Linked DNA regions of Homo sapiens. The protein of the gene in region 1 interacts with the protein of each later gene in a pairwise test. Each region holds a gene or a part of one and is shown in the gene's direction. Other genes may lie near its edges. The genes, in order: VCAN and MMP9.

Region 1 (3,600 bases):
GAGAGCCGAGTGGCCTCGCCCCCAGGATTCGGGGCCGGCTGCTTCTGGAGCTGACCCGAGTTCCATCCAGACAGCGCTGAACACTCTTATTAAAAGGCTATTTAAGTTTTATTTTATTTTATTTTATTTTTGCTTGCTTCTTGGGAGTGGTAGGAGGGGCATCGTGCTTTTGTTTTGAGGCAGGGGAGAGGTTAAAATTTACTCCAAGCAAACTTTTTGTCAGAAAAATGAGACTTTATACCGTATTCCATTTGTTGACTTTTTAAATACATTCAGGTCACTCTAAAGCCCATTCTTAGTCAATTAACAGATTAATTTCGTTCCAGACTGTCATAAAGAGTTCGCCTGGAATGGCAAATACTGCCATTCGACAAGACTAATAGAATTTCATGGGGGCAAACATGGAAGGGCTGCGAGTGTAACTGAGGTTCCTGTGCCTCAATGAGGAACCTTAGCGGGGACCTGGCGGGGACTGGAAGCTCAGCACCTATTTAGGGAGTGACTGAGCTGGAAACCTGGAGAAGCTTGGTGCAGACGAGACGGTGCTTCTTAGAGCTGCATTTTAAGTCCTCCCATTTTGCTGCATATTGGAAGAACTGGATTTTAAAGATCTTTTCCATCACCTCAGATTCTGTAGCTAACAGCCACGTCTTTTTCTTTTTGTCTGCTGAAAGCTGTGACCTAATTGTTTTAAGCACTTCTTGACAATTTCGCCAAACCCATCCTGAAAATATTCACATAAAGTCCTAAAATAGGATGTTGTGAGTGTAATATAAAAATAGGAAGGTACCAATGGAAGCAACAATTAGTGTTCTGAGATAGAAGCGGTTCCCAGTTTGTAACTTGGAAATGTTAAGAGCAGTACATCAGGGAGAAGGTCTCCAAGAGTCTGACTTCTTGTTCTGAGCTCTGAGTAAAGAAAGAAATATGTTAGAATTGTATTGTCTGCCCGCAGTAATATTGTAAAGGGTTCCAATGGATTCCAATGTGATTGAGCAATTACTTCCTCCAGCACCAAGTCCACAGTCCTTAATCTTCTTGTGAGAAGATTAGGTAGGAAGCGGGATGAGATTCAAGACAATCATTTAGGATTTATGTCAGAATTCAAAGTTTTGATTCTTTTGGTAGATAAAAACAGAGTTGGTTTTAAATTGTATTTCCTGCTTTCAAAAAAACGAGGTTTGAAAGGAATCCCCCTAGATTTACATAGGTTTACAGATGTAAGTTTCTTCTTTTTCCCTGTGTTTGCAAACTGGAGGGAGATGCCTTTGATATTCCAGAATACCTGTATCTATACACTTGTAAATTCTGCTAGGAAAGGACCTAAACAGCTAAACCAAAGGTGACCATGATTAATGTTAAAGATACTACCCATTGTTCTCTCTTTTGTTGTATTATTAGGCTTAAATACTTTGGAGTTAATGATTGGTCACTTAATTGAGTAACAGAGCCTTTGAGAGCGCAAAGATCAACTAACTCTGTCTCCCAAAGTCTGGCAACTAAGCCCTCCTTTCCTGGTGAGATTTAAACATTTTTGTTGACGTCATTCATGGACAAACATCGGTAAACACTGTATTTAAAATGGGATATTGCCCTGTGATGGAGCAGAACTTCTCAAGACACATGGTTCTTTTGAAAGAAAGAATTAATGACTGTAGTAAGGTATTTTTTCACCACCCACGTAGAGAAACCAGTTAGGACTGACAAACACTCATTGTTGGGAGTTACTTGCTCTGGTCTGAGAAAATATGCTGATTGTTACATAGGTCTGTATTTTACCAGAAAACACAAAGCATGTACTCTCCCTGATTTGGAATCAGAAAAGGGGGATTAGATATGGATGTCTTGGCCAAGCTCCATTTCAATTAGTGAATTTTTGCCAGTTTCCTCTTGTAGCCTAGACTTGGTAAATTACATATATATAAAGTCTGTGTGTGTGTGGGGGGTGCGTGTGTGTGTGTATGTATACAGGGTTTTTAAACACTGCTAAGTTCTTACCATTGAATGTGTTAGAGGTGGTTGTATTTCAGAGGTCAGTACAGAGAATCTTTGTTTAATGTGTCAGTTCTGTTTCCTGAAACACACCTCTGGGTAGATTTACCAACTATAAAAGGATACAAATGTATATACTTTCCACATCTGTATACATCCTACCTCATTCTTCTAAGGATTTTAAGAGGTGTTTATGTCTATAAAATGAGATTACATATTTTACAATAAACATATTTGATAAATTATAATCTTTTTATTATTAAATTATTGATTTGATATTACTTGAGGTATAGTGGAATGAGCACTAGACTTGGAATCAGAAAGTTTGAGTTGGACTCACTAGCTGAGAAAACCAAGCAAAGATATTACTTTTGGACCTTTAGTGTCATAATCTATTAAATGAATATGCAGTTATAAAGATCAAAAGAGTAAGTACTTTGAAAAACTATACAAAAAAGGGATGATAATATATTATGTCTTGGGATTCATATTGATCTAATTCTATAATTTTAATAATAACTGCATTACCCAAGCCATGTAGTTTCTACTGAATCTATAAAATAAATCAGAGAGGGGCATATTGTTTTAAAAATTGTTTAGTTTCATTAATCAGAAGACAGGTTACAGAAATTGACTCCAATGAAGTTGGACATTCAGTGGAAAGGAAGAATTATTCAATAAATGGTTTCAGGACAATTGATGGGTCCATGCAAAATAAGAATCAGTCTCTACCTGATTTCTCATCCTAAAAGAAATATAAGATGAATCAAATATGAAATGTAGGGAATAACTTTTTACAAAATGATAAAAGAAAATCATGGGATTAAAAAAAATAAGTTAGGAATAGAGAAACCTGTTCTAAGCAAAACATAAAACCCAGTGCCATTCTAGGAAATACTGATAGGTCTGACTAAGTAAAAATTACACAAAAGCAAATAATATATTTGGAAAACATCTACGACATTTGAGAGACAAAAAGCTAATAACTCTTGATATTCCATGGACTTTTATGAATAACTTTGAAAAGTCCACATCTATCAAAATATGAGCAAAAATTATGTACAGGTAGTGGCAGAAAGAGACATAGAGTTTTAAAATTATAGAAAAAATCGCTCAGCCTCATCTGTAATTAAATAAATAGTAATTAAAACACCAATGATATGCTACACCATTTTTTCACCAATCAGAGGAGTAACAAAAAAAAATAATTTTTTTCTTTTTTTTTTTTTTTGAGATGGAGTCTGTTACTCAGGTTGGAGTGCAGTGGCACGATCTCAGCTCACTGCAACCTCCGCCTTCCAGGTTCAAGCAATTCTCCTGTGTCAGCCTCCCTAGTAGCTGGGATTATGGGCACCCACCACCATGCTTGGCTAATTTTCGTGTTTTTAGTAGAGTGGGGTTTCACCATGTTGGCCATGGCAGTTGATCTTGAACTCCTGACCTCAAGTGATTCACCCACCTCAGCCTCCCAAAGTGCTGGGATTACAGGCATGAGCCACTGTGCCTGGCAAAAATAAAATTAAAAAGTTTGATGCAAGTTTGTGTTGGCCAGGTTGTGGAGAAACTGGGTCTCTCATATACTGTTGTATGAAAGTAAATAGGTTCCTC
Region 2 (4,125 bases), on another chromosome or scaffold:
TTAACTCTCTGAGCCTTAGTTTCCCCCTCTGAAAACAGGAGGGATACTCATTAAACTTACCTTACAGGTGGTGAGGATGAAACGAGAGGCTTATAGAGAACTTATTACGGTGCTTGACACAGTAAATCTCAAAAAATGCATTATTATTATTATGGTTCAGAGGTAAAGTGACTTGCCCAAGGTCACATAGCTGGAAAATGGCAGAGCCGGGATGGAAATCCAGGACTTCGTGACTGCAAAGCAGATGTTCATTGGTTAGTGAACTTTAGAACTTCAACTTTTCTGTAAAGGAAGTTAATTATCTCCATCTCACAGTCTCATTTATTAGATAAGCATATAAAATGCCTGGCACATAGTAGGCCCTTTAAATACAGCTTATTGGGCCGGGCGCCATGGCTCATGCCCGTAATCCTAGCACTTTGGGAGGCCAGGTGGGCAGATCACTTGAGTCAGAAGTTCGAAACCAGCCTGGTCAACGTAGTGAAACCCCATCTCTACTAAAAATACAAAAAATTTAGCCAGGCGTGGTGGCGCACGCCTATAATACCAGCTACTCGGGAGGCTGAGGCAGGAGAATTGCTTGAACCCGGGAGGCAGATGTTGCAGTGAGCCGAGATCACGCCACTGCACTCCAGCCTGGGTGACAGAGTGATACTACACCCCCCAAAAATAAAATAAAATAAATAAATACAACTTTTTGAGTTGTTAGCAGGTTTTTCCCAAATAGGGCTTTGAAGAAGGTGAATATAGACCCTGCCCGATGCCGGCTGGCTAGGAAGAAAGGAGTGAGGGAGGCTGCTGGTGTGGGAGGCTTGGGAGGGAGGCTTGGCATAAGTGTGATAATTGGGGCTGGAGATTTGGCTGCATGGAGCAGGGCTGGAGAACTGAAAGGGCTCCTATAGATTATTTTCCCCCATATCCTGCCCCAATTTGCAGTTGAAGAATCCTAAGCTGACAAAGGGGAAGGCATTTACTCCAGGTTACACTGCAGCTTAGAGCCCAATAACCTGGTTTGGTGATTCCAAGTTAGAATCATGGTCTTTTGGCAGGGTCTCGCTCTGTTGCCCAGGCTGGAGTGCAGTGACATAATCATGGCTCACTGTATCCTTGACCTTCTTTCTGGGCTCAAGCAATCCTCCCACCTCGGCCTCCCAAAGTGCTAAGATTACAGGAATGAGCCACCATACCTGGCCCTGAATCTTGGGTCTTGGCCTTAGTAATTAAAACCAATCACCACCATCCGTTGCGGACTTACAACCTACAGTGTTCTAAACATTTTATATGTTTGATCTCATTTAATCCTCACATCAATTTAGGGACAAAGAGCCCCCCACCCCCCGTTTTTTTTTTTACAGCTGAGGAAACACTTCAAAGTGGTAAGACATTTGCCCGAGGTCCTGAAGGAAGAGAGTAAAGCCATGTCTGCTGTTTTCTAGAGGCTGCTACTGTCCCCTTTACTGCCCTGAAGATTCAGCCTGCGGAAGACAGGGGGTTGCCCCAGTGGAATTCCCCAGCCTTGCCTAGCAGAGCCCATTCCTTCCGCCCCCAGATGAAGCAGGGAGAGGAAGCTGAGTCAAAGAAGGCTGTCAGGGAGGGAAAAAGAGGACAGAGCCTGGAGTGTGGGGAGGGGTTTGGGGAGGATATCTGACCTGGGAGGGGGTGTTGCAAAAGGCCAAGGATGGGCCAGGGGGATCATTAGTTTCAGAAAGAAGTCTCAGGGAGTCTTCCATCACTTTCCCTTGGCTGACCACTGGAGGCTTTCAGACCAAGGGATGGGGGATCCCTCCAGCTTCATCCCCCTCCCTCCCTTTCATACAGTTCCCACAAGCTCTGCAGTTTGCAAAACCCTACCCCTCCCCTGAGGGCCTGCGGTTTCCTGCGGGTCTGGGGTCTTGCCTGACTTGGCAGTGGAGACTGCGGGCAGTGGAGAGAGGAGGAGGTGGTGTAAGCCCTTTCTCATGCTGGTGCTGCCACACACACACACACACACACACACACACACACACACACACACACACCCTGACCCCTGAGTCAGCACTTGCCTGTCAAGGAGGGGTGGGGTCACAGGAGCGCCTCCTTAAAGCCCCCACAACAGCAGCTGCAGTCAGACACCTCTGCCCTCACCATGAGCCTCTGGCAGCCCCTGGTCCTGGTGCTCCTGGTGCTGGGCTGCTGCTTTGCTGCCCCCAGACAGCGCCAGTCCACCCTTGTGCTCTTCCCTGGAGACCTGAGAACCAATCTCACCGACAGGCAGCTGGCAGAGGTGGGCAAACACCTAGTCTAGAGTTGGGGAGGGCTGTCCGTGAGGGTGTTGAGTGTCCCAGAGAGGATGCAGGGCCTCAGAGGAGATGCTTTAGGGGTGTGTTGGTGGTGATGGGCGTATCTGAAGAACAGAGGTGTCCAGGGTTAGGCAGTGGGGGGTCTTGTGGAGGCTTTGAGCAGTGATGGCCAGAAATGGGCAATGGGGCTTTCCTAGGTGGGAAATGGGAAATGGTTTGGGGTGGGGGAGGCATTGGAGGGTTCTGGGGTAAGCATAGGCTGGGAGTGAACAGGGGCAAACCTTATGCAGCTGTGGGGTAGAAATGGGCTAGAGGCATCCAGGGGTGAGAAGGAGCTGAGGATGTCTAAGGAGGGGAGATCCCTGGGTGGTCAGAAAGCACTGGTGTCTGGAAAGCATTTAATGCTTTATTAAATGTTAGTCCCTGCTGGGCATGACGGCTCACACTTGTAATCCCAGCACTTTGGGAGGCTGAGGTGGTAGGATCGCTGAAGCTCAGGAGTTTGAGCCCAGCCTAGGCAACATAGTAAGATCCTGTCTCTACAAAAAAATTAAAGAAATAGCCAGGCACAGTGATGTGCACCTGTAGTTCCAGCTATGCAGAAGGCTGAGATGGGAGGATCGCTTGAGTCCAGGAGGTCCAGGCTGCAGTGGGCTGATACCGTCTCTCCGAAAAAGAAAAAGAAAAAAGACTCCCTCCATGAGTGTCTGGAGGGAGTCCTTTGGCCCCAGCTGGGCAGAGAAAGGGGTCAGAGATCTGGCATGTGTGTGTCCCTTCATCCACAGGAATACCTGTACCGCTATGGTTACACTCGGGTGGCAGAGATGCGTGGAGAGTCGAAATCTCTGGGGCCTGCGCTGCTGCTTCTCCAGAAGCAACTGTCCCTGCCCGAGACCGGTGAGCTGGATAGCGCCACGCTGAAGGCCATGCGAACCCCACGGTGCGGGGTCCCAGACCTGGGCAGATTCCAAACCTTTGAGGGCGACCTCAAGTGGCACCACCACAACATCACCTATTGGTGAGCCGGGGCCGTGGGGGCAGCGGGGTGGGGCGGGGAGGCCAGGTCTGGCTCTTGGGCCAGCGGTGAACATGTCCTGTCTTGGACGCGTCCCTGGGTTTCACTATTTAATGTGTGGCCCCTGGGGAGTGTCCCCACCTCTGAGCCTCTGTTTCTCCTTCAGGGAAATGGCTCTTGCAATCCAAGTCCTCCTGCCAGGGCCATTGTGAGGGTCTAAGTAGACAAAAAAAAAAAAAAAAAAAACAGTCTGGAAGCAATTTATAGATGAGAGCGTGGACGGCAGAGAGCATTGTGTATGTTGAAGTCTCTGCGATATGGGGTGTCCCTGCTGCCCCGCTCCAGCCTTTCACTTCTGACCTCCTTCCTCTGGCTCTTACGCTACAGGATCCAAAACTACTCGGAAGACTTGCCGCGGGCGGTGATTGACGACGCCTTTGCCCGCGCCTTCGCACTGTGGAGCGCGGTGACGCCGCTCACCTTCACTCGCGTGTACAGCCGGGACGCAGACATCGTCATCCAGTTTGGTGTCGCGGGTGAGAACGTGAGGAGGGAAAATCCAAGAGACCTGGGCGGGGTCAGGGAAGGGAGGACCACGGAGAGCGTGGAGGCAGCAGTGGCCCCGGCTTCCTCTTGCCTGCCCGCGCTGCCCTGGCTTATACGGCCCCTCCTGCCAGACAGTGCACAGGGCCAGGGCGCCAGGCTGGGAGAGCTTCGCGCAGGCGGGATTTCAGCCCGCACTTATTTCGGAGCCCTTGCCTTGGGCAGCGCACAATCTGCGCAGCAGTACTCGGCTAACCCTCTTCCTCTCGACCTGTTTCTTCAGAGCAC

What was found.
Region 2: the proteins of VCAN (region 1) and MMP9 interact in binary tests that used the Homo sapiens proteins (3 or more experiments, as listed by UniProt).

The regions. Positions count from the first base shown.
Region 1 is NC_000005.10:83,474,744-83,478,343, forward strand, and holds part of VCAN (versican core protein isoform 1 precursor), read left to right. Parts: intron 1-3,600. UniProt on the Homo sapiens protein: May play a role in intercellular signaling and in connecting cells with the extracellular matrix. May take part in the regulation of cell motility, growth and differentiation. Binds hyaluronic acid.
Region 2 is NC_000020.11:46,006,802-46,010,926, forward strand, and holds the start of MMP9 (matrix metalloproteinase-9 preproprotein), read left to right. Parts: upstream 1-2,106; 5' UTR 2,107-2,125; coding exon 2,126-2,263; intron 2,264-3,064; coding exon 3,065-3,297; intron 3,298-3,681; coding exon 3,682-3,830; intron 3,831-4,120; coding exon 4,121-4,125. UniProt on the Homo sapiens protein: Matrix metalloproteinase that plays an essential role in local proteolysis of the extracellular matrix and in leukocyte migration. Could play a role in bone osteoclastic resorption. Cleaves KiSS1 at a Gly-|-Leu bond.